Homo sapiens: one gene and its partners. The protein of the gene in region 3 purifies or fractionates together with the protein of the main gene of each other region. This does not show direct contact. Each region holds a gene or a part of one and is shown on either strand. Other genes may lie near its edges. The genes, in order: PTGS2, DERL1, SURF4, TMED7, ADGRG5 and TMBIM4.

Region 1 (4,826 bases), on a different chromosome or scaffold from region 3:
CTAGATGATATCAATCCCACAGTACTACTAAAAGAACGTTCGACTGAACTGTAGAAGTCTAATGATCATATTTATTTATTTATATGAACCATGTCTATTAATTTAATTATTTAATAATATTTATATTAAACTCCTTATGTTACTTAACATCTTCTGTAACAGAAGTCAGTACTCCTGTTGCGGAGAAAGGAGTCATACTTGTGAAGACTTTTATGTCACTACTCTAAAGATTTTGCTGTTGCTGTTAAGTTTGGAAAACAGTTTTTATTCTGTTTTATAAACCAGAGAGAAATGAGTTTTGACGTCTTTTTACTTGAATTTCAACTTATATTATAAGAACGAAAGTAAAGATGTTTGAATACTTAAACACTGTCACAAGATGGCAAAATGCTGAAAGTTTTTACACTGTCGATGTTTCCAATGCATCTTCCATGATGCATTAGAAGTAACTAATGTTTGAAATTTTAAAGTACTTTTGGTTATTTTTCTGTCATCAAACAAAAACAGGTATCAGTGCATTATTAAATGAATATTTAAATTAGACATTACCAGTAATTTCATGTCTACTTTTTAAAATCAGCAATGAAACAATAATTTGAAATTTCTAAATTCATAGGGTAGAATCACCTGTAAAAGCTTGTTTGATTTCTTAAAGTTATTAAACTTGTACATATACCAAAAAGAAGCTGTCTTGGATTTAAATCTGTAAAATCAGTAGAAATTTTACTACAATTGCTTGTTAAAATATTTTATAAGTGATGTTCCTTTTTCACCAAGAGTATAAACCTTTTTAGTGTGACTGTTAAAACTTCCTTTTAAATCAAAATGCCAAATTTATTAAGGTGGTGGAGCCACTGCAGTGTTATCTTAAAATAAGAATATTTTGTTGAGATATTCCAGAATTTGTTTATATGGCTGGTAACATGTAAAATCTATATCAGCAAAAGGGTCTACCTTTAAAATAAGCAATAACAAAGAAGAAAACCAAATTATTGTTCAAATTTAGGTTTAAACTTTTGAAGCAAACTTTTTTTTATCCTTGTGCACTGCAGGCCTGGTACTCAGATTTTGCTATGAGGTTAATGAAGTACCAAGCTGTGCTTGAATAATGATATGTTTTCTCAGATTTTCTGTTGTACAGTTTAATTTAGCAGTCCATATCACATTGCAAAAGTAGCAATGACCTCATAAAATACCTCTTCAAAATGCTTAAATTCATTTCACACATTAATTTTATCTCAGTCTTGAAGCCAATTCAGTAGGTGCATTGGAATCAAGCCTGGCTACCTGCATGCTGTTCCTTTTCTTTTCTTCTTTTAGCCATTTTGCTAAGAGACACAGTCTTCTCATCACTTCGTTTCTCCTATTTTGTTTTACTAGTTTTAAGATCAGAGTTCACTTTCTTTGGACTCTGCCTATATTTTCTTACCTGAACTTTTGCAAGTTTTCAGGTAAACCTCAGCTCAGGACTGCTATTTAGCTCCTCTTAAGAAGATTAAAAGAGAAAAAAAAAGGCCCTTTTAAAAATAGTATACACTTATTTTAAGTGAAAAGCAGAGAATTTTATTTATAGCTAATTTTAGCTATCTGTAACCAAGATGGATGCAAAGAGGCTAGTGCCTCAGAGAGAACTGTACGGGGTTTGTGACTGGAAAAAGTTACGTTCCCATTCTAATTAATGCCCTTTCTTATTTAAAAACAAAACCAAATGATATCTAAGTAGTTCTCAGCAATAATAATAATGACGATAATACTTCTTTTCCACATCTCATTGTCACTGACATTTAATGGTACTGTATATTACTTAATTTATTGAAGATTATTATTTATGTCTTATTAGGACACTATGGTTATAAACTGTGTTTAAGCCTACAATCATTGATTTTTTTTTGTTATGTCACAATCAGTATATTTTCTTTGGGGTTACCTCTCTGAATATTATGTAAACAATCCAAAGAAATGATTGTATTAAGATTTGTGAATAAATTTTTAGAAATCTGATTGGCATATTGAGATATTTAAGGTTGAATGTTTGTCCTTAGGATAGGCCTATGTGCTAGCCCACAAAGAATATTGTCTCATTAGCCTGAATGTGCCATAAGACTGACCTTTTAAAATGTTTTGAGGGATCTGTGGATGCTTCGTTAATTTGTTCAGCCACAATTTATTGAGAAAATATTCTGTGTCAAGCACTGTGGGTTTTAATATTTTTAAATCAAACGCTGATTACAGATAATAGTATTTATATAAATAATTGAAAAAAATTTTCTTTTGGGAAGAGGGAGAAAATGAAATAAATATCATTAAAGATAACTCAGGAGAATCTTCTTTACAATTTTACGTTTAGAATGTTTAAGGTTAAGAAAGAAATAGTCAATATGCTTGTATAAAACACTGTTCACTGTTTTTTTTAAAAAAAAAACTTGATTTGTTATTAACATTGATCTGCTGACAAAACCTGGGAATTTGGGTTGTGTATGCGAATGTTTCAGTGCCTCAGACAAATGTGTATTTAACTTATGTAAAAGATAAGTCTGGAAATAAATGTCTGTTTATTTTTGTACTATTTAAAAATTGACAGATCTTTTCTGAAGATAAACTTTGATTGTTTCTATACATCTTTGTCATATGACATAAGATTTCTCTGAAGCATTACTCTTAAACCATTATCTTGCATTCTCCTACCTATTCAAAACTAGGACTGGCCCTTCATGAAATGGTTTTGCCCTCAATTATATAGAGGCTTCCTAGAGTCACTATTTAAATCTCATAATCCTTATTCACTGCGACACTGTGTTGGAAAATGTCTAGTTTGTGTATCTTTACAGAAGATGGCAAACAAGCTTATTTTCATTGCCTAGTCTAGAAGAAGAAGAAAAAAATACACAATAAGGCAAAGAATAAGACATATATTATGAAGGGGGCACAAAGTTAAGAAGTTCAAAGAGGAGGAAATTATACAAAGTTGGGCAAATCATTGATGCAAAAGCTCATAGGCTTTTGTTGTACCTCTATCCTTGACATCTTGGTAATTTCAATATCTACATGGACCACATATTTAGCATCTTCCCTGGCCTCTCCTCTTTGGCCTTCTCCATTCCAGGGATGGCCTCTTCCACCATATTTCCTGAAATCATACATATCTTGATATCATTATGATTAATTACAGCACCACTTTCAAAATCTTGATTCCAAGCATCTTCCAGCTCACCTATTTTATTGCTTACACTCTAACATCTAACTCTCAGTCTCACTGAACCTACCGATCCACCAACCTCATCACTTCACTATTTATCACCTGTTTTATCTTTCCATTTACTTCCATATGCATCTAGCTCAGATTCTATTGTCCATCATTCTAATCATTCCCCTCTGCTCTGTATATTCTCCCTCTACTGTGCTGAATTGACACAAGTTGATTAAATCCAGCCATTCTCCTAATCTGTTTTTTATTTGGCTTCTCAGTAGCATTCAACACAAATAGCTATAATCTCTTTACTGAAAGAACCCCTGCCCCAACCTTGGCTTCATGGTTTGATACTCTCCTGGTCTTTCTCTACCTTTCTCAGAGCACTATTGCTCAGTCTTTTCTCTCTCTCTTTTTTTTAAGCTCTTTCTCTTCTACTGTATGTATAAGTTGAAGTGTCTTGATATCTGCTCTGTCTGCATTCCTCCAGATTAATCACATTTAAGCTCATTATTTGAAATAATAAGCACTCAGAAATAAGCACTCCAGGACCAACGTCTAATTGTCAATTGACAACATCTCCAAATTGTCAATTGACAACCTCTCCACTCAAAGTCATCAATTTAATTGCTTCTTTTACATTCTTCCCTCCCAGAACCATATATCCCAAATAATAATTGTCCAACGTTAAAGACACCACCATACTCTTTCCTTCACTTGCATAGCCAATCCAACAGCAATCCTGTTGACTACAACCCACAAATAAATCTTAAATCTGTCACCTTTTTTCCAACTTCACAACCTAGCAGTGTAATAGTCTATTAATTGGTGTTCTCTTGTCTATTCTTTCCTCAGCCCAAACCATTCTCCTTATGGCAGTGGCAGTAATTTTATATATATATATACACACACACTTTATACTTTAAGTTCTGGGACACATGTGCAGAACGTGCAGGTTTGTTACATAGGTATACATGCGCCATGGTGGTTTGCTGCACCCATCAACTTGTCATCTACGTTAGGTATTTCTCTTAATGCTATCCCTCCCCTAGCCCCCCACCCTTCGACAAGCCCCAGTGTATGATGTTCCCCTCCCTGTGTCCGTGTGGTCTCATTGTTCAACTCCCACTTATGAGTGAGAATATGCAGCGTTTGGTTTTCTGTTCCTGTGTTAGTTTGCTGAAAATGATGGTTTCCAGCTTCAACCATTTCCCTGGAAAGGACATGAATTCATCCTTTTTAATGGCTGCATAGTATTCCATGGCATATATGTTCCACATTTTCTTTATTCAGTCTGTCATTGATGGGCATTTGGGTTGGTTCCAAGTCTTTGCTATTGTGAACAGTGCCACAATGAATATACATGTGCATGTGTCTTTATAGTAGAATGATGTATAATCATTTGGGTATATACCCAGTAATGAGATTGCTGGGTCAAATGGTATTTCTGGTTCTAGATCTTTGAGGAATCTCCACACTGTTTTCCACAATGGTTGAACTAATTTACAATCCTACCAACAGTGTAAAAGCGTTCTTATTTCTCCACATGCTTTCCAGCATCAGTTGTTTTCTGACTTTTTAATGATTGCCATTCTAACTGGCATGAGATGGTATCTCATTGTGGTTTTGATGTGCATTT
Region 2 (5,259 bases), on a different chromosome or scaffold from region 3:
CCGTCCTTCACTCCACTCCCTTATCCCTTATCCTTCATTTTTCTTTCTTTCTTTCTTTTTTTTGGAGACGGAGTCTCGCTCTGTTGCCCAGGCTGGAGTGTATATGGCGCAATCTTGGTTCACTGCAACCTCTGTCTCCTGGGTTCAAGCAGTTCTCCTGTCTCAGCCTCCCAAGTAGCTGGAATTACAGGTGCACACCACCATGCCCAGCTAATTTTTGTATTTTAGTAGAGACGGGGTTTCGCCATGTTGGCCAGACTGGTCTTGAACTCCTGACCTCAGGTGATCCACCCGCCTCAGCCTCCCAAAGTGCTGGGATTAGAGGCGTGAGCCACTGAGCCTGGCCTTATCCTTCATTTTTCTTGCTACATATTACCCTTTGGTATTTATTAGTCTGCTTCCCCTCAGAGAATAAGGCTCCATGAGAGCCGTTCACCACTGTCCTTGTTACCTGGAATAGTGCCTGGGACGTAGTAGGTGCTTATATATTAACTGAGTTGTTGGAAGTAATTGGGCACTTGCTGTGTGCTGGGCACTGGGGTACAATAGTAAATAGGACTGAAAAGGTTTCAGAGCCTGTGAAGACATAGAGGCACGTGTTTTAAGGGGTGTAATATTTGATAGGGTGTTCCACCCAGAAAGGCCTCAGAGAAGACATTTGAAGAAATTGGAATACTGAGGAGCCAGCCAGCCAGCTTTGGGTAGATCTGGCTCTGGAGACAACCTTCCAGGAAGGACTAGTAAGTGAAAGGCTCAGAAGTAGGAGCTGGGAACAGGAAGAAGACTGGGTTGCCAGCTGGCACAGGGTCAGCTGTAGGGTGAGGATTAGTAGATGACAGCAGGGAGATAGCCAGGGCTGGGTGTAGTAAAGCTAAGATGGAAAGGTGGGTTAAAGCTAGATCATAGTTGAGCCTTGTAGGTCATGTTAAGAGGTTTGAACTTTATTTTGAGGGCACTATGAAGTCTTTGGAGCCTTGTGAACAAAGGACTGACAGATTGCCCCGACTATTCTGTGGAGTGGACTTTGTGTGTGTATGGAGGGGGTTGAAGGAGGAAGGGCTAGGTGATGAGATCAGAGAGATGAATCCAGTTAGGAGGCCAGAGAGATGGTGGTTTGGATCAGTGTGGCTGTGAAGATAGAGAAAAGGGCATAGACTTGGCAGAGGGGACGAGATTACAGCCGAATGGATATAAAGAGTGAATGGGTGAAGCGAGCAGGACTGAAAGATACTACTGTTTTCACAGGAGCAGCTGAGTGGATGGCGGAGCCCTTGACTGAGATGGGGAATGGTCAGGGATACCTGGGTTGGGAGTGGGGGCTGGTATGGATGAAGAGTTAGGTTTTGGCTGTGCTAAGTCTTGAGATGCTTTTCAGGCATCCATGTGGCGAGGCCAAGGGAGCAGTTGGATATAAAAACATGACTCTGGAGTGCAGCTGGAATTGCATACTGTTCTGTGTTTATTACTTTACTAAATATTTGTTGGCTGAGAGAATGTTGTGTACTTTGTCCCTGGTGGCTTGTTGGGTAATGTGTGGTCATGGGGAGCAATGGTGGCATATTAATGTGTGAGAAGGACCTGGTCAAAACCGGCTTGTTGTCCCTGTTAGCAAAATCCTCACTTGTGTAGTGACACTAGTGACTACACGATGTAAATAAGCACATTGTAAAGAAGCAATGTAAATAAGCCTAACAGGCTGCGGGTGTATAAGGTTAAAAGTGGTGAACTGATTAAAAAGAGTAATCGTTCTTGTCACATCTTCCACAATTTTGTCATCTTCCCTGTATTATTTCTTCTCAGCTGCCAGCAGGAGGCAGGACAGTGTACTGCCCAGGTGTGAAAAGACCAACAGCTGTACCTTGTCTTTTCTTCCTGTTACTCTGATTCTTGCCTATTTTGGACACATGTAACTTTCAGACCCACCTGGAGGAACTCATTTGCAAATGAAGCAGTCAAGGAAAAACTGCATTTGAGAGGCTGCTGTGCACGGACAGTGTGCGGTGTGCTTTAGCAGAGTTCTGCTAGAAAGTTCCTTTTTTCCTTAGAAGCTGAATCTTTCACAACTTACAAAAATGGGGGAGTGATTGATTTAGAATTGTGTGCTCATGTTGGAAGTGACAAGTTATTTTTCCTCCTCAGCTCTAGATTCTTGTGTGTAGCTTGTTGGTTTAGAACGCTGAGGTTTATAATGTTATTTCTTTAGTTTGGATAGGTTGAAACAGGTGTGTGTTAAGACTCATTATACTGTTGTCTACGATTTCTCCCTATTCTGAGTCCCTCAGATTTATGTTCATCAATCAAATAGTTCACAATAATGAAATGTCTTCATATTAATCGTTGATTAACTACACAAGAGGTGGCAATTCCTGCTGCCTTTGTGTTTTCTAAGGTTATGTCTCCCAGGGCCGCCTGCATGGCTATATTTCTTCATTTCTTTGGACAAAATAACATCACCCTGTTACAACTTCCCTGAGGTCATGTCACTGAACTCTGACAGTCATCCTGAGATAAGTGTTACCCCCATTTTGTAGACAGCTTCAGTTTCAGTTTCTATTTCGTTGAGTCAAGGATAGTTCTAAGCTGTTTTGTTTAACTCCTTTGCATAATATCTACGAAAAAAATAAGTATGTAGCAAAACATTTTTGAAGGTGATTTCTTCCAAATCAATCATAGCAAATTGTTTTTCCTTTTCTATTCGAGTAGAAAGGCTGTTAGATTTCAAGTAGTTGAATCATGGTCTCAAGGCCTGGCTCAGTCCCCTGCTAGTTGTGTACCCTTAGGCAAGTTATTTATCCTGTCTGAGCCTCAATTTCTTTAGGATCTGAGGATAATATCATAGCATATTAACTTTGTTCTAAGACTCCATTGATTATACGATGCACCATCAATTTAATGCAACTTTTTTGGGGGACAGGGGAGTAGAAATTACATTCAACGAGTGTATTGATTGTAAGACACTCTAATTTCAGAAACACAGGAACGAGTACCTTCAAATTGAGGAAATATGTTATCTACTTCTTGCCTCTAGTATGTAGAACACATAGAAAAATGTTTGTAATACCCAATAAGTAGCCTGATAAATAAGCTATTCAAAAATAGTTGCCTCCTACGTGGTTGGTATGGGAAAAAAAATAGTTGCCAATTTTTATTTATCAGCCAATACTTTATGCCTTATTTCCTTCTCTCCTGGACAGTAAGATTCTAATTTTAATTAGTAATTGCAATTGAAATGTAACTGCTGGATGATTATTCTGCTTTGTCTTCTTAAAAGCATCCTGACTTGAAATGGGAAGATGTGAACTCTTGATTTCTCTAATTTATTTCCAGGAATAAGAAATGGTACCAACCAATTCTGTGACTCAGCCTTGTGCTTATATTTGCCAAGCTTTTGCTTATATATCACATTTAACCTGATGACAGCAACCTTAGGAGACTGATTTAAGGGTGTATTGGGGAAGAGAGACGTTTCAACATAGCAGGGAGGAGAATGAACTTGGACTATAGGCTGAGCATAGAAGTTCTATATCCATCAAGGTTTGGCTATAGAACTCTAGTGGCAAGTGTTCTGGTACGTAATTTAAGATCTTTCCTTAGTAGTCCTGTCCATGTTGAACAGTTCTGCTGTGTTCTGTAATAATGTTGCCCATTAGATTGTGGCTTTTTAAAAAACTTTTTATTGAGTTACAATATACAAGCAGGAAAGTGTATGTATAATAAGTTTATAGCTTGAGTTTTTAAAAATTCAAAACATGTATACAGCCAGCATTCAGATCAAGAAACAGAATCTCTAAAAGCTTTCTCCTGCTTCCTTCTGGTCACTGTCCTCTCTAAGGGTGACTATGCTCTTGATTTTTAATACCATGTATTGTTGTTGCCAGTTTTTATGCTTTTTATAGGTGGAATTATGAAGTATGTTCTCTTTTGTGTCTACCTGCTTTTATCAACATTATGAGAGTCACCCATATTGTTGCATGTGGTTATAGGTTGCTCATTATGGGACCATACCACAATTTATTTACTCATTCAGCTATTAATGGACCTTTTGGGCAGTTTCCAGTTTGGCTATTATGAATGGTGCTGCTATGAACATTCTAATACATGTCTTGGTGAACATATGTACTTCTTGGTGAGGAGAAATAGTAATTTCTGTTGCCTATATATCTAGGAGTAGATTTGATGGCTTCTAATTGCTCTTTTTAAAGATTAAGTGCCTTTCATTTGTTTAAATGAATGGAAGGGGCCTTTTCTTGCCTACCCGTTGTGTCTCCCCACCCAGCAAAAAAGGCCACAGTTTACTAAACTAGCATTTGTCACACAGGTGCTCATCATCTTTCTTGCTTGGTGACTGATATATACTTAAGTCCGAATCAAGTGATCCTTATTATTTCAGACAAATCCTCACTTTTCATACTTTAAAAAAAAAAACACTAGATTCTGGATGGCAAATTATTTCAGTAGCAGATTGTTTAGAAGATTTTAGCTAAAGGATGGCTGCAACCTACACTCTGAAGTTGTTGGACTAATAACTGAGGAACAATGTCTTATGTCTTCTTTAAGGGTGTATATAGCAGTGAGCACATGGGCTACATGTCCTTGTTAAGTGAGGAACTCTAATTAGGGCCCAGCTTTCCTCCTGAAAAAACTGGGATCATTATGGGCCTGGCCTTGAGGTTGCTGTGGACTTAAAATGAGATACTCCCCCACGAGTCCTCTCAGTAAGTGTGAGGCAGGCAGTCCTCTGTCTGCAAGTCGTGGCTCTTTGTGCTGCAGTTGGCTGCCTCTTAGGCTTTCCAGGGTTGAAAATGGGCCTCTTCACTCCTGGCACTGAACGTAAAGCCAGTTCCTTCTCCTTACTGTTTACATATCAGGTCGAGGAAAAAATGGGATTTAGTTGGATACTTACAATGGGGATTTCCGAAATATGTTACACTGTGTCCTTCTAAAGAGATAAGCTGTCTTCTGGTGTTTTCAGATTATAATTTTAAAGTAACACAAAAATAATATTAAGTCTTTTAGATCAATGAAAGCAAGTATAACTCAAGGGTAGGCTTAATGAACAGGGAAAAGAAGTGAGATATTTTGACAGACACTGATTTCCAAAGAACAGGTGCAAACAGTGACTAAAAATAGTCTTATGTCATCAGCATTAGAGAAAATGTAGTCAGACAAAAACAAGGTTTCTTTTCCAAAACCAGGCCTTGAGTAACTTATAGGAATATGGGGGTAGTTGAAATATGAATTTATAAAAACTGGTTAGCG
Region 3 (4,308 bases):
TAAAACAGACCAAAACATCGTCAATCTCTTGTGTGTCAAGCCTTCTTTCCAGCAAATGAAGGCCAGAACCTCTGACCTTGGTGGAGTGTGCTTGGCCCTTGGTTGGCCAAGGCTCTCCACCCGGGCTCCCCTTACTCTTCTTTCTTTCCTCACTGTTCGTATCTTTCTCAAGTAATTCCTGTGTGTCAGGTGTCAGGGGCAGGCCTCCAGGAGCTTCCAGAGCACACCTCCGGAGCTGACTGAGAGCCCTGGCCGGGTAGTGTCCAGGAAGAGCTCCTGGCGCCATGGAGAGAGGAGAGAGGATGTTTCTGGCCTGGATGGCTGGGTGGGCCAAGAAGCACTTGGGAATTTAGTTATGGATTAGAGATTCATCTTGGTAAATCACAGCCTGTTACTAGTTGGGAACTTCAGTCTTCCCCAAACCTTCCACATTTCAAAGCTGGTGCTTTATTGCCTCCTGCCTCCCTTTGGCTTTTATCTCCCTACTTGCACCAGCAGCCGTCTCAGCAGTAGCTACATCAGCCTGATGGATAGAGACTTCATGACGTGCAGCAGCTGGAACTTTTGTTTATAAAGCATCTCTTTTCCTCACATTTATTTTGAATTTCTTACGTTTCAACCTATGCAGATTGTCCAGAACATCGTGGGCACAGCTCTGATGATTTTAGTGGCCATTGGTTTTAAAACCAAGCTGGCTGCTTTGACTCTTGTTGTGTGGCTCTTTGCCATCAACGTATATTTCAACGCCTTCTGGACCATTCCAGTCTACAAGCCCATGCATGACTTCCTGAAATACGACTTCTTCCAGACCATGTCGGTGATTGGGGGCTTGCTCCTGGTGGTGGCCCTGGGCCCTGGGGGTGTCTCCATGGATGAGAAGAAGAAGGAGTGGTAACAGTCACAGATCCCTACCTGCCTGGCTAAGACCCGTGGCCGTCAAGGACTGGTTCGGGGTGGATTCAACAAAACTGCCAGCTTTTATGTATCCTCTTCCCTTCCCCTCCCTTGGTAAAGGCACAGATGTTTTGAGAACTTTATTTGCAGAGACACCTGAGAATCGATGGCTCAGTCTGCTCTGGAGCCACAGTCTGGCGTCTGACCCTTCAGTGCAGGCCAGCCTGGCAGCTGGAAGCCTCCCCCACGCCGAGGCTTTGGAGTGAACAGCCCGCTTGGCTGTGGCATCTCAGTCCTATTTTTGAGTTTTTTTGTGGGGGTACAGGAGGGGGCCTTCAAGCTGTACTGTGAGCAGACGCATTGGTATTATCATTCAAAGCAGTCTCCCTCTTATTTGTAAGTTTACATTTTTAGCGGAAACTACTAAATTATTTTGGGTGGTTCAGCCAAACCTCAAAACAGTTAATCTCCCTGGTTTAAAATCACACCAGTGGCTTTGATGTTGTTTCTGCCCCGCATTGTATTTTATAGGAATAGTGAAAACATTTAGGGACACCCAAAGAATGATGCAGTATTAAAGGGGTGGTAGAAGCTGCTGTTTATGATAAAAGTCATCGGTCAGAAAATCAGCTTGGATTGGTGCCAAGTGTTTTATTGGGTAACACCCTGGGAGTTTTAGTAGCTTGAGGCAAGGTGGAGGGGCAAGAAGTCCTTGGGGAAGCTGCTGGTCTGGGTGCTGCTGGCCTCCAAGCTGGCAGTGGGAAGGGCTAGTGAGACCACACAGGGGTAGCCCCAGCAGCAGCACCCTGCAAGCCAGCCTGGCCAGCTGCTCAGACCAGCTTGCAGAGCCGCAGCCGCTGTGGGCAGGGGGTGTGGCAGGAGCTCCCAGCACTGGAGACCCACGGACTCAACCCAGTTACCTCACATGGGGCCTTTTCTGAGCAAGGTCTCGAAAGCGCAGGCCGCCCTGGCTGAGCAGCACCGCCCTTTCCCAGCTGCACTCGCCCTGTGGACAGCCCCGACACACCACTTTCCTGAGGCTGTCGCTCACTCAGATTGTCCGTTTGCTATGCCGAATGCAGCCAAAATTCCTTTTTACAATTTGTGATGCCTTACCGATTTGATCTTAATCCTGTATTTAAAGTTTTCTAACACTGCCTTATACTGTGTTTCTCTTTTTGGGGGAGCTTAACTGCTTGTTGCTCCCTGTCGTCTGCACCATAGTAAATGCCACAAGGGTAGTCGAACACCTCTCTGGCCCCTAGACCTATCTGGGGACAGGCTGGCTCAGCCTGTCTCCAGGGCTGCTGCGGCCCAGCCCCGAGCCTGCCTCCCTCTTGGCCTCTCATCCATTGGCTCTGCAGGGCAGGGGTGAGGCAGGTTTCTGCTCATAAGTGCTTTTGGAAGTCACCTACCTTTTTAACACAGCCGAACTAGTCCCAACGCGTTTGCAAATATTCCCCTGGTAGCCTACTTCCTTACCCCCGAATATTGGTAAGATCGAGCAATGGCTTCAGGACATGGGTTCTCTTCTCCTGTGATCATTCAAGTGCTCACTGCATGAAGACTGGCTTGTCTCAGTGTTTCAACCTCACCAGGGCTGTCTCTTGGTCCACACCTCGCTCCCTGTTAGTGCCGTATGACAGCCCCCATCAAATGACCTTGGCCAAGTCACGGTTTCTCTGTGGTCAAGGTTGGTTGGCTGATTGGTGGAAAGTAGGGTGGACCAAAGGAGGCCACGTGAGCAGTCAGCACCAGTTCTGCACCAGCAGCGCCTCCGTCCTAGTGGGTGTTCCTGTTTCTCCTGGCCCTGGGTGGGCTAGGGCCTGATTCGGGAAGATGCCTTTGCAGGGAGGGGAGGATAAGTGGGATCTACCAATTGATTCTGGCAAAACAATTTCTAAGATTTTTTTGCTTTATGTGGGAAACAGATCTAAATCTCATTTTATGCTGTATTTTATATCTTAGTTGTGTTTGAAAACGTTTTGATTTTTGGAAACACATCAAAATAAATAATGGCGTTTGTTGTATGCAGTGTGATCCTATAGCGTTGCCCAGCCTGAATGGGGCTCCCCTCAGGATGCCAGTGAGCGAGGTTACTTCTCTAGGCTTCTCTGAAGACCACTCAGAAGCCATGTCCAGAGAGAATTAGTCCCTCAGAGTCCCTGCTGCTTCCTGGGTGTGGGGGACAGACTCCCTCAGCCCTGCCTTAGAGGGCAGCAGATGTCATGAGACAAGGATAAGTGGGTAGAGAAGACACTGGGGACAGCCGATCATTCAGAGGACACACGGTTTGATCAGGAGCGGGGGAAATATCTGAAGGCTTTCTCGAAACTTCACGGCATGTGCTTTTATTAACCTGGCTGTTTACAGGAGCTGAAGCTCTTGGGTTTGCGGTGATGACTCTTGAACTTCTTTTTCAACGAGCCCAACTGCTTCTGTGGGATAAACAAAATTCTGATTACTGAGCCTTTCTGATCCCATGGAGAAGGGGCCCTGGAGTGCAGGGCTCTCCCCACCCACACAGCCTCAGAGGTGTCGGTCAAATACCCACAGAGGCTTTCTCCACCCCCGTTTCCTTAACAGCTGCAGGATTAGACCCCGCTCAGCAGGGCCTCAGAGGAGTACAGTGCAATGCCACACACTCATTAGGACCTTGTCCTCTTTTGGCCTTGGTCCTGCTTATCTACCAAAGGCGGGGAAGTCTCCACTCCTGCCCTGATGGCAAAGGCAAAGGTGGTGGCTAGTAATCAGGTCCCTGTGCCCAGGGGTAAGGACAAACACGCCACAGCTCATAGTCTGAGGTAGGAGGGTGTCCTCACAAACCAGTGGTCTTGACCGTGGTCCACAGAGCCTGGCTTCCACAAGGGGCTGGCTGGGAAGCAATGGTAGGCACTCACGGCCTTCCGCCAGCCAGCGGCCTCGGCTTCTATGGTTCTTGTGTGTTGTTGGCTTGGGATTTCACTTGTGAAAAAGGTTCAGTTTTCTTTTTTTAAACAAATGGAAAACCATCACTAGGGGAAGCCACTGCCACACTAACAGAGGAGGTGACAGCTCACCTTCCCGCGCTTCTGGACCAGCCCTCGGTACACGGTCGTCTCTCTCCTGCCCTCATCAGTGGCCTTCTCTCTTGGGGGCTTTGCCTTCTCATCCTCTTTGTCTGTCAAAAAGTCATCAGTGCCATCCCCATCCTCCGTGCTTCCAAGGTCCTTTCTGGTGAATAGCTCAGCTGGGAGGAACACAGGGATTGGCTGACAGTTATTTTAGGCTGAGTTCGCTGCCACCTTTGCAGGGGAGGCAGCACCACAGTCTGCTCCCTGCTGACAGTAGAGGGTCAGGGAGAAGCAGGGCCTGTTCTGCTTACGTGGGTACAGGTCTGTCATGCTGTCATCACTTGCAGCTCCCCCCTCATCA
Region 4 (5,259 bases), on a different chromosome or scaffold from region 3:
GTTTTACCTTCACAGCCTCCAAAAATGGGACATACAAATTTTGCTTCAGCAATGAATTTTCTACTTTCACACATAAAACTGTATATTTTGATTTTCAAGTTGGAGAAGACCCACCTTTGTTTCCTAGTGAGAACCGAGTCAGTGCTCTTACCCAGGTAAATAAAAAAATCAGCAATATAATGTTGGTATATTTAAAAGGAGGAAAAAAGCATAATTTAATATCATGCACTAACTGATGAGCATGGAATTTTGAGACTGACAGTCTTTAAAATCTATCTTAATTCTTACATGTAGGCATTTCACAGAGAACTTCAGACTTTTGTAGTGAAAAATAATGTTGAAAGATTTTATGAACTTTTAATTGTAAAGAGAAAGAAGCATTAAAATAAGGAGGAAGATCACTAAGGTAGAAACATCAGTGGTAAAAGAAGGTTGGGAAGGCTGAGCAGTGTTCCAATCTTCTGAAGCATTTTCTTTAATCCCTGAAGGAATGTTGCTGTCATACTCAGGAGGCTGGTGTAACTGGAAGCAAAATGATGCCTAAATTAGTAGATAAATAATACCATATCATAGCCTTTATACCATTACTTAGTGTTACTCAAGCTGCTGTAACAGTAACTTGTGCTGTAACTTTAGGTGAAATATTGAAGATTAATGGTAAGTCATCTCACAAAAATAGTTACAAAAGCTAAATTCAGATTTATTTTGGAGACATAGAGAAAGCGTAAAAAATTTAAACCCAGTGAACAACTATTGCTTAGGTGATGAGGACTGTTTTATTTCTAGTTCAAATACAGCAAAATCCAAAATGCTTCAAAATCCAAAACTTTTTTTTAGCTCCAACCTGATGACACAAGTGGAAGATTGTTACATCTGATCTCATGACACATCATTGAAAATATCATATACAGTTGCCTTAAGGCTGCATGTATAAGGCATATATGAAACATAAATGAATTTCATGTCTAGACCTGGGTTCCATCACAAAGATATCTCATTATGTATATGTAGACATTCCAAAATCAGAAAAAATCTGAAATTCAAAGCACTTCTGGTCCCAAACATTTTGGATAAGGGATACTCAACCTGTATGGGCTTAGATCGTATCTAAAAGTTACTCAATTAGGCATGAAAAAGAATTATTTACCACTTATTCGTTAACATCTTAAACTGGTATTTTAGTGTTCCCAGGTTCTATTTAGTCTCTTGGCCAAAGTCATGGTGAAAGAAACAGCTTTAAGAATGTGTAAAAGCCTTAATTCATAAACCTGTTGTTAGAATTAGCAAGATATATTCAAATACTCTTAATTTTAGAAATGTTCTCTTTATTTTAAGGTCTTGTGTGAAGGACACCTTGCTTTGTAAAATGATATTTCTTTGGGGCCATTACCTTAACCTGTATCCATTCCTTCATGAATTTTAACTTGTATAAGGTGGCTTGTTCTAAAAACCTAAGTGGGTAAATATAAGAAATGAATGGTAATAAAGCAGTTAGTATCATACCCGTCTTTATCCATGCTACATTTTTTATTTTTCTCAGTCTTATTTTTCTACTTTCAAAAAGATAATGTATCATATAATAGGGATCATTATAAAGCAACTTTTCATACTTTAAAATTGAAAATTACCAGCTAGTAAGTTCAGAACAAAATTACCAGCTAGTAAGTTCAGAACAAAATTACCAGCTAGTAATGCAGAATAAATGATAAAAGTTTTACTCTCACCATTTTTTACCTGTTGATAAAATGATGGATTTAGAGTAGGCAATGATCAGCAGTCACTACTAAAACCATTAAGTAAAAGGCTGATGGGGAACTTTATACTGAGTGGATCAGACTGAATGATCATTCACAAATGGAGAGATAACTAGACATTATGTGCCTTATCATAATATGCAGTAAGAAGTACACAACATTGACTACTAGACGTTCCCACCCAGAACATTGCACCTGAATTCCATCAAGTCTCTAGCTCCAAATGCCAGTTTACAAGAAATACAGAGGATAAAGGAATAACATGGGAATGCAATCAACAAAATCCAGGACGTGGGAAATGCCACAGGATAGGGGTTGATGGCAAGGAAAAAAGGAAAAACAAGGAAGAAAGCCTAAAGATTAATGAACACTTACATCAGCCAAATGATTGTGTTAACCTTACTTGGATTCTTACTTGAAAACCAACTTTGAAACAATAGGGGAAATTTGAACACTATTTCCTGACTTTAAGGAACTGTTTTAGATTATTTCATGTGTTATAATACTATTGGGGTTATGTTTTTAAAAAGTGTTATCTTTTAGAAATAAAGTATAAAAGTATTTGTAGCTGAAGTGATAAAATATCTGAGATTTGCTTTAAAAATAATCGGGGAATGTAGATGAAGCAAGATTAGCCATGTGTTAATCTTTGTTGACATGGTGGGGGTTCATTGTACTTTTCTCAATACTTTTGAATATATATGGAAGTTTTCACTGTAAAAGTTTTTTAAAAATCACATCTCAGGCCAGGCGTGGTGGCTTACGCCTGTAATCCCAGCACTTTGGGAGGCCGAGGCGGGCGGATCATGAGGTCAGTAGTTAGAGACCAGCCTGACCAACATGGTAAAACCCTGTTTCTACTAAAAATACAAAAATTAGCTGGATGTGGTGGAGTGCACCTGTAATCCCAGCTACTCAGGAGGCTGAGGCAGGAGAATCACTTGAACCTAGGAGGTGGAAGTTGCAGTGAGCCAAGATTGCGCCATTGCACTCCAGCCTGGGTGACAGAGCGAGACTCCATCTCAAAAAAAGTCACATCTCAAAAGTTGTAGAATGCATGTAATTTAATTTCTGTGATTTTCTCTAATCCAGTAGTTCTTAACCCATACCCCATGGACAGGCTTGAAGGAGTTCCTAAATATTCTGCATTTGGGTCAACTCCTTGCCTTTATGTGTACTTTCCAGGTGAAGAATCCTTGGGCAATATGCCATTTTGAGAATATAGAGAAAGCAAATCCTAGAAGCACATCTCTCTCTAGCTCCTCATCACAAATTAGGAATCATTTTAGCACAGTTTTGCAAATTTTTCATTCCTAGGGGCCTGAACAAAGCAAGGACAACAAAAATATTTGACTCTTCTAATAGGTTAATGCAGTTTGTTGGCCTCATAATTTCTTACATTTTTTAAAAGCACTTTTAATAGAATATTTTAATAATTATTCCTTTCATACTTACTTTGGCAGAACTTCATTAAACATTATTTTCTAATTTCTATATTCCTTAACTAAAATTAAAACAAACTTAGATTTGTTTTTAAAACTCTTAATACAGGCTTGTTGCATAAAATAATAATAAAACATATATTTTACCACTAGGATTAAGTTTGCAGCAGTAGAAAAATATTAAACCATGGTATACAAAAAAACTAGTCATTTAACCTTTCTCAAAACAGATGGTATAATAAATGTATAAAAAGGCAAGCTGTTATCAGCTAAAGGCTCACAAATTGATTACACAGTGAAACTGAAACTTGCATCCTGTTGGGAACATACATATTGGTTTAGTTGACTGGCATGAGGGAAAAGGCTGATTTAACAAATAGATAAATGTAAAAAAACAAAGTCATTCCTATTCTGATAGATCCCTTTCAGATTTAAAAGTTACTAACGATTTTGATGTTGTGGCTGTTTTAAACATAGTTCAAAGAACTTTGACTAATTCAGCTTTTTTTTGTACTGTGCTTTGTTTATTTTTATAGATATTTGGGCTTTGACTTATATTCTCATTGGTGAGCTCACTGCCATTTTCTTCCTAATTCTTCTTTAAAGAACTTGGGCTGGAAATTCTGTAGTCACCAACCTTAGCTGATAAGTATTTCTGCTATTGTTAGCTTAGTGTTCCATCTGCCCCCTTACTGATGCCATGGCTGTGACATCTCAGTTGGGGAAAACAGCTGCTTCATGAGATCTCTAGCCTTAACAGTTGTCCCAGTGAAAATGAGCAGGGGGGTTTCATTGCAAAGACAACTGGCATAAATGTATGAATGAATGCCAGATTAGTAGCATGTTAGTCAAAAGAGGAATTGAGATCAAATTGAAAGAAAAGCTGAATATGATAGATGAAGTCTACAGAAAGTATCACACATACTGACTGAAAATATTTCTCTGCAGATGGAATCTGCCTGTGTTTCAATTCACGAAGCTCTGAAGTCTGTCATCGATTATCAGACTCATTTCCGTTTAAGAGAAGCTCAAGGCCGAAGCCGAGCAGAGGATCTAAATACAAGAGTGGCCTATTGGTCAGTAGGAGAAGCCCTCATTCTTCTGGTGGTTAGCATAGGGCAGGTATTTCTTTTGAAAAGCTTTTTCTCAGATAAAAGAACCACCACAACTCGTGTTGGATCATAACTACGTTTTGAGAATTGATGCACCATTGCCACTGTAATATTGCTGTCCTCTAATTAATTTTAGGTACTGAAGAACTTAATATTGGCAACATTTTTAAATCCTTACTCATACACTTGTTGGGAGGGATGTACAATGCATATTCCCAAACTGTGGAAAGGACACCTTTTTTTATTTGTAAAGGTGGAAAAACTTTGGAACTCATTTTGGGCTATTCATGTTAAATATTCAACACCAATGATCTACTCTGTTCGCAGTTGTTTATATCTACTCTTCGCACACTAAACTTTGGTATTTTGATTCCTTTTAACCATTTAAGACTACTTTTCTTATAGGTAGTTGATATTTTAAAAACTTTAGATTTAATGTCTACATGTGTTAGGGAGGAAGAAAATTGCCTTTTAATTGTTAATAAGAAAACCAAATGTGATGAACTGTAGCCCAAGCCCTATTCTGCACTGTTCAGTTTTATGGAGGAAAAATAAATCTACCATAGGAATGTTAGTTAATATTGATATATCATGGTAAAATTGATTTCTCACTAGCTTAGAAAATGTCAGACTTTTGTTTTTGGGGTTTATAATTTAAACCAGCTATGCTATTTTTTCATAAAGGCATTTGTAGTACACAGAAAACAGTAGTTTCAGTAGTGTAAAAGAGTTTATACAGGCCTTAAATATCAGACTTTGTAACAGGTAGAAATATTACAGAATAATTTAAGACACTACAATGGGGGCAAATGAAATAGGAAAATTTTTAGTGAGTTACACGTACTCATTACATTTTCAGTGCTTTTACAAGGAAAAAAGGTGATATGTTTAATTTTAAAATTTTAATTGGCTAGCTCTTGCCCTTATATGACTTTAATGTCTGTGAGTCAT
Region 5 (3,500 bases), on a different chromosome or scaffold from region 3:
AGTCCTCCCTCCCATTTGCTCCCCACCACCACCTTCCCAGTGTGACCACTCCTCCCTCCACCACTGTTCCATCGTAGAGCCGTCACTAACATCATCTTGGAGGAGAGCTTCCTCCAAACCACCAGGCTCATTGCTCTGAAGTTGGGGGCTCACAACAGTCTCCTCTCAGTTGTCCCTTGACCAGTGAAATTCTGTGTCAGCAGCCCCAGGGACCGCCCCAGGGACCGAGGGTCAGCCCTCTCCCACATCTCCTGAGCCTTTGTCCCACCCCTCAGGGGCCCCAGCCCTCCTGGTGCTGCTTTCCCTCTCTGTCAAGAGCTCGGTATACGGACCCTGCACAATCCCCGTCTTCGACAGCTGGGAGAATGGCACAGGCTTCCAGAACATGTCCATGTGAGTGCCCTCAGGGCTGCAGTGGGCTCCCTGGCTCTGGCAGAAGGGCCACATGGGCCTGGGGCTCCAAATGGAATATCCTGTAGGCAAAGCACTGGCTGTGGGGCAGAGAGGGAGCTGGGGCTTAGACAGGGGAGTTTGCAGGGGGCTCCACCACATCCCTTCCATGGATCCAGGTCTCCTGCAGAGGCAGCCTTGTGTTCTATGCTGGTGAAGTCTACGAAGCCAGCGTCTGCTCGCCAACCTGCCAGGGCAGCCGGGCCTCCCGCCTCCTCTGTCCTGCCCTGCCCTCCAGTGCCCAGGCCCTGAGGGTCTGGCTCAGCCTGCACTTGACTCTGTTCCCCTGCAGACCACCTTGCTGCACCTACCCAGGCTCCAACTCCTCCCGACCTGCCCTGGGCACTGCCAGGCCTCTCAAGTCCTCCTAGTCGGACAAGAGTGCTGTGGGGGCTGGGCTTGGGGGAGACAAAGAGAGGCAGCGAGGTGGGCCTTTAGGGGCCGGGGGACACGCTGCTGCTTTTTTTTTAATAGCCCCTCCCTGCAGGCGAGGACGTTAAGCTTTTTATTATTATGCAACATTTCTAATAGCCAGACATAGACTAGCCTAAGGAACCCCCGCGCGCCCATCACTCACTTGCAGTTGGCTGTGGAACCTTTTTCCTTCTTGGCTGATGCAGGCTCAGGATGGGGGCTGATTCTGTGGCAGGCCTTGGGTATCAGCTGGCTTCGTTTTCACAAGGGCAAGGGCCGGGTCCTGTTGCCAGCCCTATTTTACAGTTAGGGCACCTGAGAAACAGGCAGCTTAAGAACTCTACCTGAGGAGCCCTAGCCAGTCAGTGGCAGAGCTGGGGCTTGGTCTCCGGCAGGCTGGTCCAGAGCCTGGCCCCCAGCCCCTGAAGCAGGGCCGGGGGACTGCGTGCTACATAGGTGGGGCTGATCCCTCTCACATTGAGGCTCGGGTGTATCAGAGGACATGTGACTTCAATTTACATGAATTGTTCTCTGCAATCTCCATGACAACCCATAAGGCAAGTACATAATCATCCCCAACCTACAGATGAGGAAATAGAGGCTCTGGCCTCAGTTTACATACTCTCTGAAGATGTATTTTCTTTTTTTTCTTTTTTTTTTTTTTTTGAGATGGAGTTTCGCTCTTGTTGCCCAGGCTGGAGTGCAATGGTGTGATCTCGGCTCACTGCAACCTCTGCCTCCTGGGTTCAAGCGATTCTCCTGTGAGTAGCTGGGATTACAGGCGCGTGCCACCACGCTCAGTTAATTTTTGTATTTTTAGTAGAGACAGAGTTTCAGCATGTTGGCCAGACTGGTCTCAACTTCTGACCTCAGGTGATCCGTCTGCCTTGACCTCCCAAAGTGCTGGGATTACAGGCGTGAACACTATGCCCAGCCTATTTTCTTATATAATAATATGATGAGGACAAAGGAGCTTTAGTGACACGTCCACAGGACCCACTAATGCACAGATGTTAGAGAACACCCACCTACGAGCCAGCTTCTCCCTGGGTCTTCCTCACTCTGCCCTCTCCTCTCAGGAAACAATTACCTTGGGGTTTGTGACTTTTTTTTTTTTTAATTTAAAACATCTCTTACTATGTATATACACATTCCTAAACCCAAACATCAGTTAAAAACCAAAAACAGGCCAGGCGTGGTGGCTCACGCCTGTAATCCCAGCACTTTGAGAGGCTGAGGTAGGCAGATCATGAGGTCAGGAGATCAAGACCATCCTGGCTAACACAGTGAAACCCCGTCTCTATTAAAAATACAAAAAATTAGCTGGGCGTGGTGGCAGGCACCTGTAGTCCCAGTTACTCGGGAGGCTGAGGCAGGAGAATGGCGTGAACCTGGGAGGTGGAGCTTGCAGTGAGCTGAGATCGCCACTGCACTCCAGCCTGGGCGACAGCGAGACTCTGACTCAAACAAACAAACAAATAAAAAACACATCCTGGCCAACATGGAGAAATCCCATCTTTACTAAAAATACAAAAATTAGCCAGACATGGTAGCGGGTGCCTGTAATCCCAGCTACTCAGGAGGCTGAGTCAGGAGAATCGCTTGAACCCGGGAGGTGGAGATTGCAGTGAGCCGAGATTGCGGCACTGCACTCCAGCCTGGAGACAGAGCGAGACTCCGTCTCAAAAAACAAAACAAAACAAATACAACCCTTGAAAATCATTCAGATGTCCACTGACGGGATGCTGGATGAATGGACTGCAGTAGAGCTGCCCCCGTGGGGATATTCCCTAGCGGTGAAAGTGAGTGGTCGCCTACCACACTCATCAACTTGGAGGAATCCCAAAATAATGTCCTGGGACCCTTGTGACTGTAGGGGCAGGAGCCACAAAGTGAACCTCAGCAGGGGATTGTGACAGTTAGGGGCTCAGGCTCTGGGCCTGGGGCTTCAGGATCCAGCTTTGCCTCTAACTGGACTGTGTTCCTGAGCTAGAGCCTGAGTTTCCTCATCTGCAGGATGAGGACGATTATGTACTTGCCTTATGGGTTGTCATGGGGATTGCAGGGGACAAGTCACATAAAGCACATCGTTACTGGTGGAGGGTGTCCAGGTTCTTGGCGTCTTGAACCAAGAATTGGACAAGCCTGGGCATGGTGGCTCGTGCCTGTAATCCCAGGACTTTGGAAGGCCGAGGCAGGTGGATCAACTGAGGTCAGGAGTTCGAGATCAACCTGGACAACACGGTGAAACCCTGTCTTTACTAAAAATACACAAAAATTAGCTGGGCGTGGTGTCAGGATTCTGTAGTTCCAGCTACTCAGGAGGCTGAGAGAGGAGAATTGCTTGAACCTGGGAGGCGGAGGTTGCAGTGAGCCAAGATCACATCACTGCACTCCAGCCTGGTGACAGAGACTCCCTCTCAAAAAAAAAAAAAAAAAAAGGAAAGAGTGAGGCATGAATTAAGCAAGAAAAGCAGAGATTGATTGAAAATGAAAGTACACGCTACAGTGTGGGAGTGGGCCAGAGCATAGGGCCTCAAGAGCCCTATTACAGAATTTGTGGAGATTTAAATATGCTCTAGAGGTTTCCATTGGTTACTTGATGTACACCCTCTGTAAATGAGGAGGATGAAGTA
Region 6 (5,259 bases), on a different chromosome or scaffold from region 3:
TGAATAATTACTCCCCTGAAAAATTAAAAATTACTTAAATGGCTTTGGGTTCAAAGCAGTTAACCTCCAAGAGGTTATAACTTTGCAATTTATTAAAATGTTAAGGAGTTTTATTACAATAGCCATAATTGAATGGATGATTATTCTAAAATTACAGAAAGGAATTTGGCATATATTCAGTAAACCCCAAAATAATGTACTCCAAGATAATACACATTTGGATATAAAGCAGTTAGTGGTTGGTTTCTGTCCTCTGCAGGGTAAGTGAATGGTAGGCAACCCCAGACAGCCCCAATATTTTTCTTTCCCAATTTCCTTGATTTGGGCTGATAAACCAAGTATAACTAACTAGATGATTGCTGGATTTGCTGCTACTGTCCAGGAATTCCCAGCCAGGCAGGAGACCCAGAATCATCCCTATTGATATTTAAACCATAATGGACAATCACCACAGATGGTGGTAAACTGTGCCTGGGACAGAGATGGCTGAGAATCACTCCCATACCTGTAGAACTCCAAACTGGCTACAGGCGTGATAGCTCTCCAGTCATTTCATTAACTTGGTAATAATGTGACCTCTGATTTTGTATGAATGAATTTTTTGGAGACTGTTAATTGCATTATGGGTGTGGTTTCACTGTACCCATGTAGTCAAGGATGGATAAGAAATCTTTTCTAATTGTTTTTATTGGCATAAAGTACAGGAGAAAATGAAGCATTTCTATAAAATGCCAGAAAAAGCTGTTTTGTATTGAGCATGTTTATATGCATGTTAATCAGTGTTTTAATTTTACAGTTACTTTCTATGATGTATATATTATTCTGCAAGCTTTCATACTGACTACTACAGTATTTTTTGGTTTGACTGTGTATACTCTACAATCTAAGAAGGATTTCAGCAAATTTGGAGCAGGGTAAGTTGTATATATTCTTGGATATAATAGATAGATGTCTTTAATTATTATAGGTGGTTTTGAGGAATGTGCTACACTGTTATTTTTGGGTACTGTCTTTTAAAATGGAGGGTAATAAGAGATCATCTCTTTGAGTACTAGGGCCAGGTCCTACTCCTAGAACATACACAGAAATGGAAAGTGGCTTTGACTTATTTGCTTCTCTCCTATAGTGAAAGGGAAGTGAATTAAAAAAAAAAATAAGCTTTCCAGAGAGTTTAAGCTTGTATGCTTTATTAACATTATGGAATTTACTGAAATTACTTCAGTCTTTGTCTTAGCATAAATGTTACCAAGACCATCCACGTCTTCTTGGAAGAAGCGCTGTAATTAGTACAGGTATTGAAAGGGTCTGCATGAACTTTAAGACCTTTTGATCCATCTAGATTAACCTGTATCCTTCCTCAAACAAATATACGGAATGATCCTTTTTATATTAGGATTATGGTACAGCATTGCCCTCACCTGGTAGGAATGCATAGACTCTTTTCTAAGCTCACAGTGGCTTCCTGTTGGCACAGTCACCCAACCGTTTTCTTTTTCCTGTTACAACACTATTTACAAAACTCTGCTCTTGCTAAACTTTCTTTCCTCCCCCACCCCTTTTATTCTGGTAATCCAGAACACCAGAAGTCTCTATTGAGATAAAATATAGTTGGTCAGCCAACACTGACAATTGCGCGAGCTGCTTAAATAGTTTCATTAGAATGGAGTTTGATTTAGGGAGAGGTAACATTTTCTATTTTCTTTTCCTTCTTTGGAAGGATGTTTCATACATATTTGTGTGGCATATATGATGAAAGTTTTGTTCTACTTCCTCTTCTCAACCCAATCTCCAACTGTTCCCTCCCTTTCATTAATTCCAGTATCATCTCTCTTAAATCCTTTTCTGGTAAACTTGCCTTATATTTCAGCCTCTTCATAATAAATTTACATTGATTGATAGAAATGGTATTACAGTGATCATATATAGATCTGAGACCAGATATTTCTGAAGTGCGTCTGTCTGTGTCTGCTGTTTCTGATAATTCTTATGATATTTTCTTTCTTTAAGTGTTCAGTTATTTTTGACTATGTAATTGTCCTTGAAAAACTATTTGTTGAATTTCTTTGAGGCCTTGATTGAAGGTGCACTTTTCCATACAGTATTTGGGTTTTCGCCTAGCATCTGGGAAAACTATTGGATTGGGTCCACTTGAAACTAAATTCATGGCTTACGATGTTTTCCCAACCACACAAGTGTTCTTCAGTTAGACTACAAATCAGCAAAGGGATAGCTTGTGGTGACAATTTCCCAGGGATGGTTCTTCTCTGCCCCCACCCCGCAATTTACCCCTGCTTAGTGCATTGATGACTTTTCTTGTAGTTGGGCAAATTCAGCTACAGTACTATGATTACTTCTTTGGGTTTCCACTTTTACCTAGATTTTGATTTGATAATTCCATTCTACCTTGACAGTTATTTGATGTTTTTAAGAACGTATTCTTTGTTTTCTCTTTTATGCATCATTTCAGTAGTTTTTCGGGGTGGGACAGGGGCAGTAATTAGTCTGGAATAGTTCTTACTTGCTGTAGTACTGGAAACGGAACCCTTTCAAAATTGCCTCTTACCTGTATTACTACAACCAGCCTCTCTATTCTCCAGTCTTAACAGTTTCCAGCCTCTTTTCCACCAAGCAGTTGGGTGATACAAAAATGGAAACTTGATTACAGTATACCTATTTAAAACCCTAACACTTCACTACTGCTCTTGGTATACAGCCCAGTTCTCCACTGAATCACATCTACTGCTATTAGTTACTGGATATTGCCATGTAATGACTCTCTAGCAAAATCCTAATAATAATTATACTTTGGTCAGTATGCCATAGATTCAGCTACTTAAGAGTAGCACTTTATTGCATTTTAAATAAAACTTAATGGCACTACTTACTGTGACGCCTCAAAGCCAAAGTGGTTGTGGAAGCTGAGTGCCAAAATGGATATAAAGACCGAGGGAAAAGATTTTCTGTGAAAATATTTTCTAAAAAGTTTATAGGCTGTTCCTTCTGACCTGTTTATGGGACATAATAGGGACTGAAGAAGTGCGTTAAATGTTTGGATGTATGGTAGTATCAGGCAATGGTGGCAGTGCTTCATAGATTGACTTAAAGCTGTGATGTTTTTACAACATCATTATCCTGTGGTAATTCTGCCACAAAAGGAATTAAATCTCAGAACTACATATGATAACTGTGGCAACTGGTCATTGGTGTGCTAGAGTTGCCTTGTGCCAGCTTATGAGGCATCTTGCAAGTCAGTTGTTAAACTGCTGGAAGTTTAAAGTAGGCCATGAAGGATGTATGTACACCACAGAAATTAAGAAGCACTACAAATCAGGGCTCATTTTCTTTCCTAGAAAGTCAGTTTACTGGTACATCACTGTTTGTAAGTTATTTTTTATTCTGTGCTTCTTGTTGAGAGGGATGAGGGTAGGATTTGTCAGTCTTCTAGATGGAGTTGTTAGAATAGCAAAATCAGCACTATGTCCATGGTATATCTTATCTATATTCTCAGAAAATTTGCTCTCTTTGATGCTTAAATATTTAATGAGATGTGAGTCAGAGTAGAGTGAACTAACAACTTAGGCAGAATATTTGTAGGACATGACTTTCAAATCTTTACCTGTTACAGTATCTACAGAGAATGCTGTCATAAACTGACAAGTCTTAGGCTGAATTTCTTACCAGAAACTTACCAAATGGAGCCTGTGACCCTAAATAACTGTTTTAGTGTGTGTACACTTAGGTTGCTGGGTGGGGCATGCTGCTTAACCAGGGAGCCTAAGTGTGTCAGATTTCAACTTGGATGTTGTAGTGGAGAAAAGGTATCTGTTTTAATATGTATTGTCAATAGTGTCTGATCAGGCTCAAATGTAGGATCTTGTCCAGTTAGTGAATAAGAGTAAATTAATGTCCAGTGACCTCTGGCAGCCCTATCCTAATGTCTTATTAGAAGCCCACAAGAATTGGAGAGGATTTTTCATGGGTCTCGTGTTTCTGAATGTCTTGTGAATGATGTGCTGACTGCTCTTTGTTCCAGACAATCTTTTTAAGGGTTTTTTTTTTCCAATAGTGAACAGCCTGGAAAGATAGAAATAGTGCTCGCTAGAGCAGAGGGCAAGCATGTTTACTTTCCATTATAAAAAAGACTTGCTTCCCTAAATTCAAGGTTCCTCTCTTGTAACACAACCCACTGTGTGTGTAGGTGTCATGTGGCCCTCTTAGCATCACCTGGGCCCTGTCATAAAAATGCTGATACTACTGTTATTACTGTAAACTGTCCTTTATCTCAGACCTAGGAGCTTGATGCATCCATGAAACTGTGCCAGGCTAACTTGTTAGCCTGCAAGTAGGGTAATATCTCGGATGCTGTAAGTTCTTAATATCACCTTCCCCATACCCCATGGTGCAGGAACGTTGGAATTTCCCTAGGCTTTAAGAATGAAAAAGCAAATCCTAAGTCCCTTTCAGTCCTGAAGGATCTATGTTGTGAGGTAGCATGATACCTCATTCTCACTTAGGTATGCCAGATGTATCCTGAGAAATTTTAGGGCCATTTCAGAGAGACAGCTGAGGACTAGATTCTCATCATGCCTTCATTTCACCAAATAGCATTACAATAAATAACTCTGTTACTGTGAGAGAACTTATTTTGTATGAGTTCAGTCCTTTTGCATTTATTTATTTATTTATTTTTTAATGGTATCTTGGTAAATGTTCTTTGTGCACTAGACAAGAATGTGTATTTTGCTGCTGCTGTCGGATGATTTGATAAATGTCAATTAGGTAAAGTTGGTTCATAATGTTAAGTGTTCTATTTGCTTACTAATTTTCTGCCTACTTGTTTTATCAATGTGAGAGGGGTGTTGAAATTTCCAACTACAAGTATGGATTGGTCTATTTCTTATGTAAATTCTATAATTTTGCATCATATTATTTTAAACTTCATTTTTAGATGCAGAAACATTTAGGATTGTTACGTACTCTTGGTGAACTGACCCCTTTATCATTATGAAGTGACCTTCTTTAGCTCTAGTAATATCATTGCCCTAAAATCTATTTTGTTATTAATATAGCAACCCCAGCTTTCTTCTTAATTTGTGTTAGCATGTTAGCATCGTATATGTTTTTCTATCCTTTTATTTTTAATGTATTTGTGTCTTTATATTTACAAGGTTTTTTTTTTAGAAATCATAGTTGGATCTTGGTTTTTAAAAATCTAATCTGACCACCTCTGCTTTTAGTTAGTGTATTTAGTCCATTTAC

What was found.
Region 1: the proteins of SURF4 (region 3) and PTGS2 purify together in Homo sapiens (affinity purification with western blotting; one study listed by BioGRID). This does not show direct contact.
Region 2: the proteins of SURF4 (region 3) and DERL1 purify together in Homo sapiens (affinity purification with western blotting, with the first as the bait; one study listed by BioGRID). This does not show direct contact.
Region 4: the proteins of SURF4 (region 3) and TMED7 fractionate together in Homo sapiens (co-fractionation; one study listed by IntAct). This does not show direct contact.
Region 5: the proteins of SURF4 (region 3) and ADGRG5 purify together in Homo sapiens (co-immunoprecipitation; one large-scale study listed by IntAct). This does not show direct contact.
Region 6: the proteins of SURF4 (region 3) and TMBIM4 purify together in Homo sapiens (co-immunoprecipitation; one large-scale study listed by IntAct). This does not show direct contact.

Annotation. Positions count from the first base shown.
Region 1 is NC_000001.11:186,669,581-186,674,406, reverse strand, and holds the end of PTGS2 (prostaglandin G/H synthase 2 precursor), read left to right. Parts: coding exon 1-54; 3' UTR 55-2,616; downstream 2,617-4,826. UniProt on the Homo sapiens protein: Dual cyclooxygenase and peroxidase in the biosynthesis pathway of prostanoids, a class of C20 oxylipins mainly derived from arachidonate ((5Z,8Z,11Z,14Z)-eicosatetraenoate, AA, C20:4(n-6)), with a particular role in the inflammatory response.
Region 2 is NC_000008.11:123,035,023-123,040,281, reverse strand, and holds part of DERL1 (derlin-1), read left to right. Parts: intron 1-5,259. UniProt on the Homo sapiens protein: Functional component of endoplasmic reticulum-associated degradation (ERAD) for misfolded lumenal proteins. Forms homotetramers which encircle a large channel traversing the endoplasmic reticulum (ER) membrane.
Region 3 is NC_000009.12:133,360,080-133,364,387, reverse strand, and holds the end of SURF4 (surfeit locus protein 4), read left to right. Parts: intron 1-628; coding exon 629-895; 3' UTR 896-912; coding exon of another isoform or gene 913-924; 3' UTR 925-2,924; downstream 2,925-4,308. Other genes in the region: SURF2 (surfeit locus protein 2), read right to left, coding at 3,249-3,332, 3,954-4,123, 4,259-4,308. UniProt on the Homo sapiens protein: Endoplasmic reticulum cargo receptor that mediates the export of lipoproteins by recruiting cargos into COPII vesicles to facilitate their secretion.
Region 4 is NC_000005.10:115,615,331-115,620,589, reverse strand, and holds part of TMED7 (transmembrane emp24 domain-containing protein 7 precursor), read left to right. Parts: coding exon 1-155; intron 156-170; exon of another isoform or gene 171-522; intron 523-1,390; exon of another isoform or gene 1,391-1,451; intron 1,452-4,144; coding exon 4,145-4,381; 3' UTR 4,382-5,259. Other genes in the region: TMED7-TICAM2 (TRAM adaptor with GOLD domain isoform 1 precursor), read left to right, coding at 1-155, 4,145-4,272. UniProt on the Homo sapiens protein: Potential role in vesicular protein trafficking, mainly in the early secretory pathway. Appears to play a role in the biosynthesis of secreted cargo including processing and post-translational modifications.
Region 5 is NC_000016.10:57,570,143-57,573,642, forward strand, and holds part of ADGRG5 (adhesion G-protein coupled receptor G5 isoform 1 precursor), read left to right. Parts: intron 1-275; coding exon 276-393; exon of another isoform or gene 394-491; intron 492-1,027; exon of another isoform or gene 1,028-1,179; intron 1,180-3,500. UniProt on the Homo sapiens protein: Orphan adhesion G-protein coupled receptor (aGPCR). Ligand binding causes a conformation change that triggers signaling via guanine nucleotide-binding proteins (G proteins) and modulates the activity of downstream effectors, such as adenylate cyclase.
Region 6 is NC_000012.12:66,141,496-66,146,754, reverse strand, and holds part of TMBIM4 (protein lifeguard 4), read left to right. Parts: intron 1-796; coding exon 797-914; intron 915-5,259.